2 linked regions of the Homo sapiens genome follow. The protein of the gene in region 1 interacts with the protein of each later gene in a pairwise test. Each region holds a gene or a part of one and is shown in the gene's direction. Other genes may lie near its edges. The genes, in order: LURAP1 and ZNF821.

Region 1 (3,824 bases):
GCCACCACACAGCTAATTTTTGTATTTTTAGTAGAGACGGGGTTTTGCCATGTTGGCCAGGCTGGTCTTGAACTCCTGACCTCGGGTAATCCACTTGCCTCAGCCTCCCAAAGTGCTGGGATTACAAGCATGAGCCACCATGCACGGCTGTAGATGTAAATTTTGGAAAGAGGAAGGAAGGGAGGGATGGAGGGAGGCAGAAAGGAAGGAAAGGAGGGAGGGGAAAACAGCAGGACAAGTGTTTTTAGTATGAGGAGCTTTGTTTAATGTATTTAGTTTGGTCATGGACTAGGACAGTTGTCTTCACTGTTCATATATTTGTCTCCAGGATGAAATAATTGAAGATAATCTCCTTTATCAAGTTAATAGTCTGTACAGTCTGATATTGCAGTTATTTATGTTCATCTCCCCTTATTGAGACTGCAAGCTTCTATTAAGCAGGAACAATTTCTCCATTATCTTTGTAATTATTAGCAAATCCATGTACCCAATAGTCATTTGTTCAATTGAATTAGAGTTGTGATATTCTTCCAAAAACACAAATAATTTCAGGTATAAAATTTTTTTCTATGCTTTTGCCATAGTGTTTAGAAAACCCTAAACTGTGTGTGTGTGTTTTTTTAATTTTTTCACTTAATGCAACACAACAATAATCATTAATACAGAAGACCCCAAAATATATGAGGATTTCTTCCCACCAGCAAGCAAGCAATCAGTTCTGCAGCAGATACCAGCTGGGTGTCTACTAATTTAATTTCAACTCTGTCTACCTGGAGACAGTGTCACATCCCACAGGTTGAGGGCTCAGTCCCCAAGACTGTCCCCCTCTTCAGACACTAGTCGTAAATCTGGGCCTCCTGACCTTCTGACCAACCAGCTTCAAATTGGGGTTCCTATGACCCCCTCCTTGGGTTTGATTGGTTTGCTGGTGTGGCTCACAGAACTCAGGGAAACACATTTACTGGTTTATTATAAGGATATTACAAAGGATATAGATGAAGAGATGCATGGGGCAAGGCATACGGGAAGGGGTGCGGAACTTCTGTGCTCTCCCTGGGTGCACCACCCTCCATCTGTTCAGCTACTTGGACGCTCTCTGAATCCTGTTGTGGGGACCTTTTTTTATTTTTTGAGACAAGGTCTGGTTCTGTTGCCCAGGTTGGAGTACAGTGGCTCAATCACAGCTCACTGCAGCCTGTACTTCTCTGGCTCAATCAATCCTCCCAGTTCAGCCTCCTAAGTAGCTGGCACTACAGGTGTGCAATACCACACTCACCTAATTTTTTTTTTTTTTTTTTGGTAGAGACAGGGTTTCCCTGTGTTGCCCAGGCTGGTCTTGAACTCCTGGGATCAAGCGATCCTCCCACCTCAGTCCCCTAGAGTGTTGGGATTACAGGCTTAAGCCACTGTGCCTGGTCCTTTGGGCCTTTTAAAGAGACTTTATTGGTTGTCCACGATTGAAACATGGACAACCATATCAAAATGTTATTGGACAAAAAGGGTCTGATCAAAACCCAGCAAAGCCTGTCTGTTTAGATTCTTATTGGCCTCTCTCTGCGGCATTCCTTCCTCCAGGGTATGAGTCAGGACCTTCTCTGGAATGAGGGTCTTATGACCCACAATCAGATTAGAGTTCTACTCTGGGAAGGTGAGAGGAGAGCAGGAGAAGGTCAGAAAGAGACTGTTTCCTGAAGCCTATTTCTGAGTGCCCCAGCATTATAACAAACACTGTAACAATGGCTATGGGGCTTATGAGCCAAAAACTGGATGAAAACCTGCACACACACACACACACACACACACACACACACACACACACAGTAATATCACAACTAGTAAATAAGTCGACCATAGTAATATGTAGAGCCAAATAGCCTACCATTTATTGATTTACAGTATTATACTTGTCAGATGGTATGCTATGCATGTTAATATGTTCCTTCGATGTCTCATGACAAACCTTTAGATAGTACCTCATATTATAATAAAGAAATGAAGGTTTAAAGAAATCAATTTTAATTTCATATGGCTCATTAATGGCAAAACTGGAACTCAAATCTAGGTCCATTTAATTCCAGTGTCTAATTTTCTCAATGTACAAATATATATATATATTTTTTTGAGACGGAGTCTTGCTCTGTTGCCCAAGCTGGAGTGCAGTGGTGTGATCTCGGCTCACTACAACCTCTGCCTCGGTTCAAGTGATTCTCCTGCCTCAGCCTCCTGAGTAGCTGGGCTTACAGGCGTGCGCCACAACGCCTGGCCAATTTTTGTATTTTTATTAGAGACGGGGTTTCACCATGTTGGCCAGGCTGGTCTCAAATTCCTGATCTCAGGTGATCTTCCCACCTCGACCTCCCAAAGTGCCGGGATTACAGGAGTGAGCTACCACACCTGGCCTCAATGTACAAATATTAATGCATGGTCTTACTCTGGTTTATCATAGATGTGAATAAAGCAGTTATTTCCTGAATAATTCAATAAACATTTTTCAAATACAAAAAACATTTACTGTGTTTGTGTGACCTGCGGGATCTGACCTGTATATGTAAATACACATACACACATAATGACGTTTTGGTCAATGTCAGACCATGTATAACATAAACAACCATGTAAATTTTTTTTTTTTTTTTTGAGACGGAGTCTTGCTATGTCATCCAGGCTGGAGTGCAGTGGCGCGATCTCAGCTCACTGCAAGCTCCGCCTCCCGGGTTCATGCCATTCTCCTGCCTCAGCCTCCCCAGCAGCTGGGACTACAGGCGTACACTGCCACGCCCAGCGAATTTTTTTGTATTTTTAACAGAGACGGGGTTTCACCGTGTTAGCCAGGATGGTCTTGATCTCCTGACCTCGTGATCCGCCCGCCTTGGCCTCCCAAAGTGCTGGGATTACAGGCGTGAGCCACTGCACCCGGCCAAATTTTTTTTTTTGAATCAGAGTCTCGCTCTGTCACCCAAGCTATAGTACAGTGGCACCATCTCAGCTCACTGTAACCTCTGCCTCCCGGGTTCAAGTGATTCTCCTGCCTGAGCCTCCCGAGTAGCTGGGATTACAGGCAAGAGCCACCATGCTTGGCTAATTTTTTATTTTATTTTATTTTATTTTATTTTTTTGAGACAGAGTCTCGCTCTGTCGCCCAGGCTGGAGTGCAGTGGCATGATCCCAGCTCACTGCAAGCTCCACCTCCCGAGTTCACACCATTCTCTTGCCTCAGCCTCCTGAGTAGCTGGGACTACAGGTGTCCACCACCACACCTGGCAAAAATTTTTTTTGTAATTTTTAGTAGAGACGGGGTTTCACCGTGTTAGCCAGGATGGTCTCGATCTCCTGACCTCTAGTGATCTGTCCTCCTCAGCTTCCCAAAGTGCTGGGATTACCATATAAACATTTTGATCAATGATAGACTACATATGTCAAATAAACATTTATCATGTGTGTATATATGCACATATATATAAACATTTATGTGTATATAAGTGTGTACACATACACAAATATTTATATGATGTTTCAGTCATCATACGACCAAAACATACGATGTTTCGATGAACAGCATATACCATAGTGATTTCATAAGATTATAACACAGCATATACACAAATATGATATATGGCACTTGATATTGGCATAGCAGATCAAGTAGGGATTGATATTCAGTAATTGTGCTGGGACATTTTGTTTTCCATATTTTAAAAAGTATATAAATTTTTTAAAATGTCATCTAGTTTGTGCATTTACCCTGTCATATTTGCACGGCAGTAAAACCTCCTGCTGGTGTATTTCTCTAAGCATATCCCCATTGTTACGTGACAAATGACTTT
Region 2 (3,824 bases), on another chromosome or scaffold:
AAATATATATACATATATATTTATATATATTTTATTTTTTTATATAATATATATAATTTTTTTTTGAGATGAGGTGTTGCTCTGTTGCCCAGGCTGGAGTGCAGTGGCGTGATCTCAGCTCACTGCAACCTCGACCTCCTGGGCTCAAGCGATCCTCCCACCTCAGCCTCCCGAGTAGCTGGGACTACAGGTGCATGCCACCACGCCCGGCTAAATATTTGTATTTTTTGTAGAGACGGGGTTTCACCATGTTGCCCAGGCTGGTCTTGAACTCCTGAGCTCAAGTGACCTACCCACCTCAGCCTCCCAAAGTGCTGGGATTATAGGCATGAGCCACTGCAGCTGGCTAAAACCCTACATTGGAGAGGACAGATTAGTCAAGTAATTGACAAGATAACTAAAATTTCTTAAAAACATGCTATATAGGCTGGGCGCAGTGGCTCACCACTGTAATCCCAACACTTTGGGAGGCCAAGGCAGGAGGATTGCATGAGCCCAAGAGTTCGAGACCAGCCTGAGCAACATGGCAAAACCCCGTTTTTTCAAAAAAATACAAAAAAACTAGGCCTGGGGGCATACATCTATAGTCCCAGCTACTCAGAAGGCTGAGGTGGGAGGATGGCTGGAGCCTGGGAAGTTGAGGCTGCAGTGAGCCAAGATTATGCCACTGCACTCCAGTCTGGGTGCCAGAGTGAGACCCCGTCTCAAACAAACAAACAAAAACCAAAAAACTATATCCCAGGCACTATGCACTTTATCTGAATCTTACTGGGTTACTTCAAGAGTAGAAGACAAAATAGTATAAACAGAGGAATTAAGAGGGTTTTGACATTTTATACATTAATGAGATTACAATAGCAAACCTCCATATAAAATTCTTTCTTCTATTTAAGTCCCGGAAAAGTGTAAAACGGAACGAGTTGGATGCTTCTAGGAGTATATTCTGGAATGGGGGTGTGCAAAGGCTACTTAATACACAGATGAGTGGTTTAGGGAAGATTTAGAAATTGCTGCTAAAACAGCAAAATGCAGTGGGCTTGCACGTGAGGATTGTCAAGGAAGATAAAATGAAGTATCTTTAGCCGAGCTCGGTGGCTCATGCCTGTAATCCCAACACTTTGGGAGGCCAGTGCAGGATAACTTGAGGCCAGGAGTTTGAGTGCAGCATGGGCAACAAGGCAAAACTCCATCTGTACCAAAAATACAAAAATTAGCTGGGCGAGGTGGCACACACCTGTAGCGCCAGCTACTTGGGAGACAGAGGTGGGAGGATCGCTTGAACCCAAAAGGTCGAGGCTGCAGTGAGCTGAGAGAGCTGAGATCATGCCACTGCACTCCAGCCTGAGCGTCGGAGTGAGATCCTGTCTCCAAAAACAAAAAAAGAAAAAGAGAAAGAAAAAAATGAAGTATTTTAGCATAGGCCATCCATCACAGGGGTTTAGGATTGTTTCTCCTCTCTGGTTGATAAAAGACACAAGTGGCCGGGCACAGGTGGTGCACGCCTGTAATCCCAGCACTTTGGGAGGCCGAGGCAGGAGGTGGATCATGAGGTCAGGAGTTTGAGACCAGCCTGGCCAAGATGTTGAAACCCCATCTCTACTAAAAATACAAAAATTAGCCGGGTGCAGTGGCGGGTGCCTGTAATCCCAGCTACTCGGGAGGCTGAGGCAGGAGAATCACTTGAACTCGGGAGGCAGAGGTTGCAGTGAGCCGAGATAGTGCCACTGCACTCTAGCCTGGGCAACAGAGCAAGACCCCGTCTCAAAAAAATAAATAAATAAAAAGACACAAGTGTGACCCCAAGAAGGCATCTGGAAAGGTACTCTTAGTAGAAATGATAGGTTCACAAACAAGGCAAGTATAGGAGTTGGGTGTTCACCTACAAAAGCCATCTGTCCAAGAGCCTGCTTAGATTTGAGGAAAGTAGCTGGTGGGGTGATGGTGTGATTGTAGTAAGGCCAGGGGAGCCACTTCAGGCTTGTGTGGCCAATGTCTATGCCCACGTAGCATATATCCATAAGCTGCATCTCCCTGCACCATAGTCAAAGCCAAGATGAGCTATTAATGGAGTTGAAAAATAGATGGAGGCTAGGCGTGATAGCTCACGCTTGTAATCCCAGCACTTTGGGAGGCCAAGGTGGGCGGATCACCTGAGGTCAGGAGTTTGAGACCACCCTGGACAACATGGTGAAACCCTGTCTCTACTAAAAATATAAAAATTAGCGCCAGGCGTGGTGGCTCACGCCTGTAATCCCAGCACTTCGGGAGGGCGAGGCCGGCGGATCACGAGGTCAGGAGATCGAGACCATCCTGGCTAACACGGTGTAACCCCGTCTCTACTAAAAATACAAAACAAACAAAAAATTAGCCGGGCGTGGTGGTGGGTGCCTGTAATCCCAGCTACTCGGGAGACTGAGGCAGGAGAATGGTGTGAACCTGGGAGGTGGAGCTTGCAGTGAGCCGAGATCGCACCACTGCGCTCCAGCCTGGGTGACAGAGCAAGACTCCGTCTCAAAAAAAAAAAAAAAGAAAAAAATTAGCTGGGCATGGTGGCGCACGCCTATAATCCCAGCTACTCAGGAGACTAACACGGGAGAATCACTTGAGCCTGGGAAGCAGAGGTTGCAGTGAGCCAAGATCACACCACTGCACTCCAGCCTGGGCGACGGAGTGAGACTCCATCTCAAAAAAAAGGAAAAAAAGAAAAACAGATGGAAAAACAGGCCATGGAGGTGAGGAGAATATCACACATCCACAGTTGCATAAATGAAGTTACAGAGTCAAGCGAAAGAACATTGTTTTGAGGTGGAGTAGGTGGGACTTTGCAGGCTCTGTGGAGGTGGCCATTACAAGGGCCTTTACTGCGGGGCTGTGAGCACAGATGTTCAGCTACAACTAAAGAGCAGACCCCCAGGGAGGGGCTGTTTTCAGTCATGCATTTGGTCAGGGAGCCATGAAGGCTTCTCAGGTGATACACTAAGCTTGACTAAAAAAGAAAAACTGAGATTTGCTAGTTTCAGAGGACCTTCTATTTATTTGTTATTTGGGAACTGAAGCTGACCCTACCCTTTTCAAAAGATCATCTTTTCATTGCGTATGGCAATAGTGGCAAGTAGAAATAGGTAATTTCATTTTCTGACCATGTGAGTCTCCTATCACCTTGCAGTGAAATAGAACCAACTAAATATATTTAATTTAATGCTGCTTGTCTATTAAAAGTAAATGAAATGGGGCCTAGCGTGGTGGCTCATACCTGTCATCTCAGCACTTTTGGAGGCCGAGGCAGGCAGATCACTTGAGGTCAGGAATTCAAGACCAGCCTGGCCAACATGGCAAAACCCTGTCTCCACTAAAATCCAAAAAAATAGCTGGGCATGGTGACACACGCCTGTAATCCTAGCTACTTGGGGGGCTGAGGCAGGAGGATTGCTTGAACCCAGGAGGCAAAGGTTGCAGTGAGCCGAGATCACGCCACTGGACTCCAGCCTGGACGACAGAATGAGACTTGGTCTCAAAAAAATAAATACACAAAATAAAGTAAATGAAATGGACTCAAGGTCTGGGGGGCAGGAAAGTCTGCATTAAGCTTTGCTTAAATATAAAAGTTAATTGACACTTGAGCAGAGTAACGGCTGAGCTTCATTAGATCTGCCTTCTGGGAAGACGAAGATTGTGTGGCATGAAACTAATAGGCCACCTAAAGGGATATATTAAGAATTCCCAGGTCGGGCTCAGTGGCTCATGCCTGTAATCCCAGCACTTTGGGAGGCCGAGGCGGGTGGATCACCTGAGGTCAGGAGTTCAAGACCAGCCTGGCCAACATG

Evidence for each region.
Region 2: the proteins of LURAP1 (region 1) and ZNF821 interact in a two-hybrid assay, tested with the Homo sapiens proteins (one large-scale study listed by BioGRID and IntAct).

Annotation. Positions count from the first base shown.
Region 1 is NC_000001.11:46,209,662-46,213,485, forward strand, and holds part of LURAP1 (leucine rich adaptor protein 1), read left to right. Parts: intron 1-3,824. UniProt on the Homo sapiens protein: Acts as an activator of the canonical NF-kappa-B pathway and drive the production of pro-inflammatory cytokines. Promotes the antigen (Ag)-presenting and priming function of dendritic cells via the canonical NF-kappa-B pathway.
Region 2 is NC_000016.10:71,874,161-71,877,984, reverse strand, and holds part of ZNF821 (zinc finger protein 821), read left to right. Parts: intron 1-3,824. UniProt on the Homo sapiens protein: May be involved in transcriptional regulation.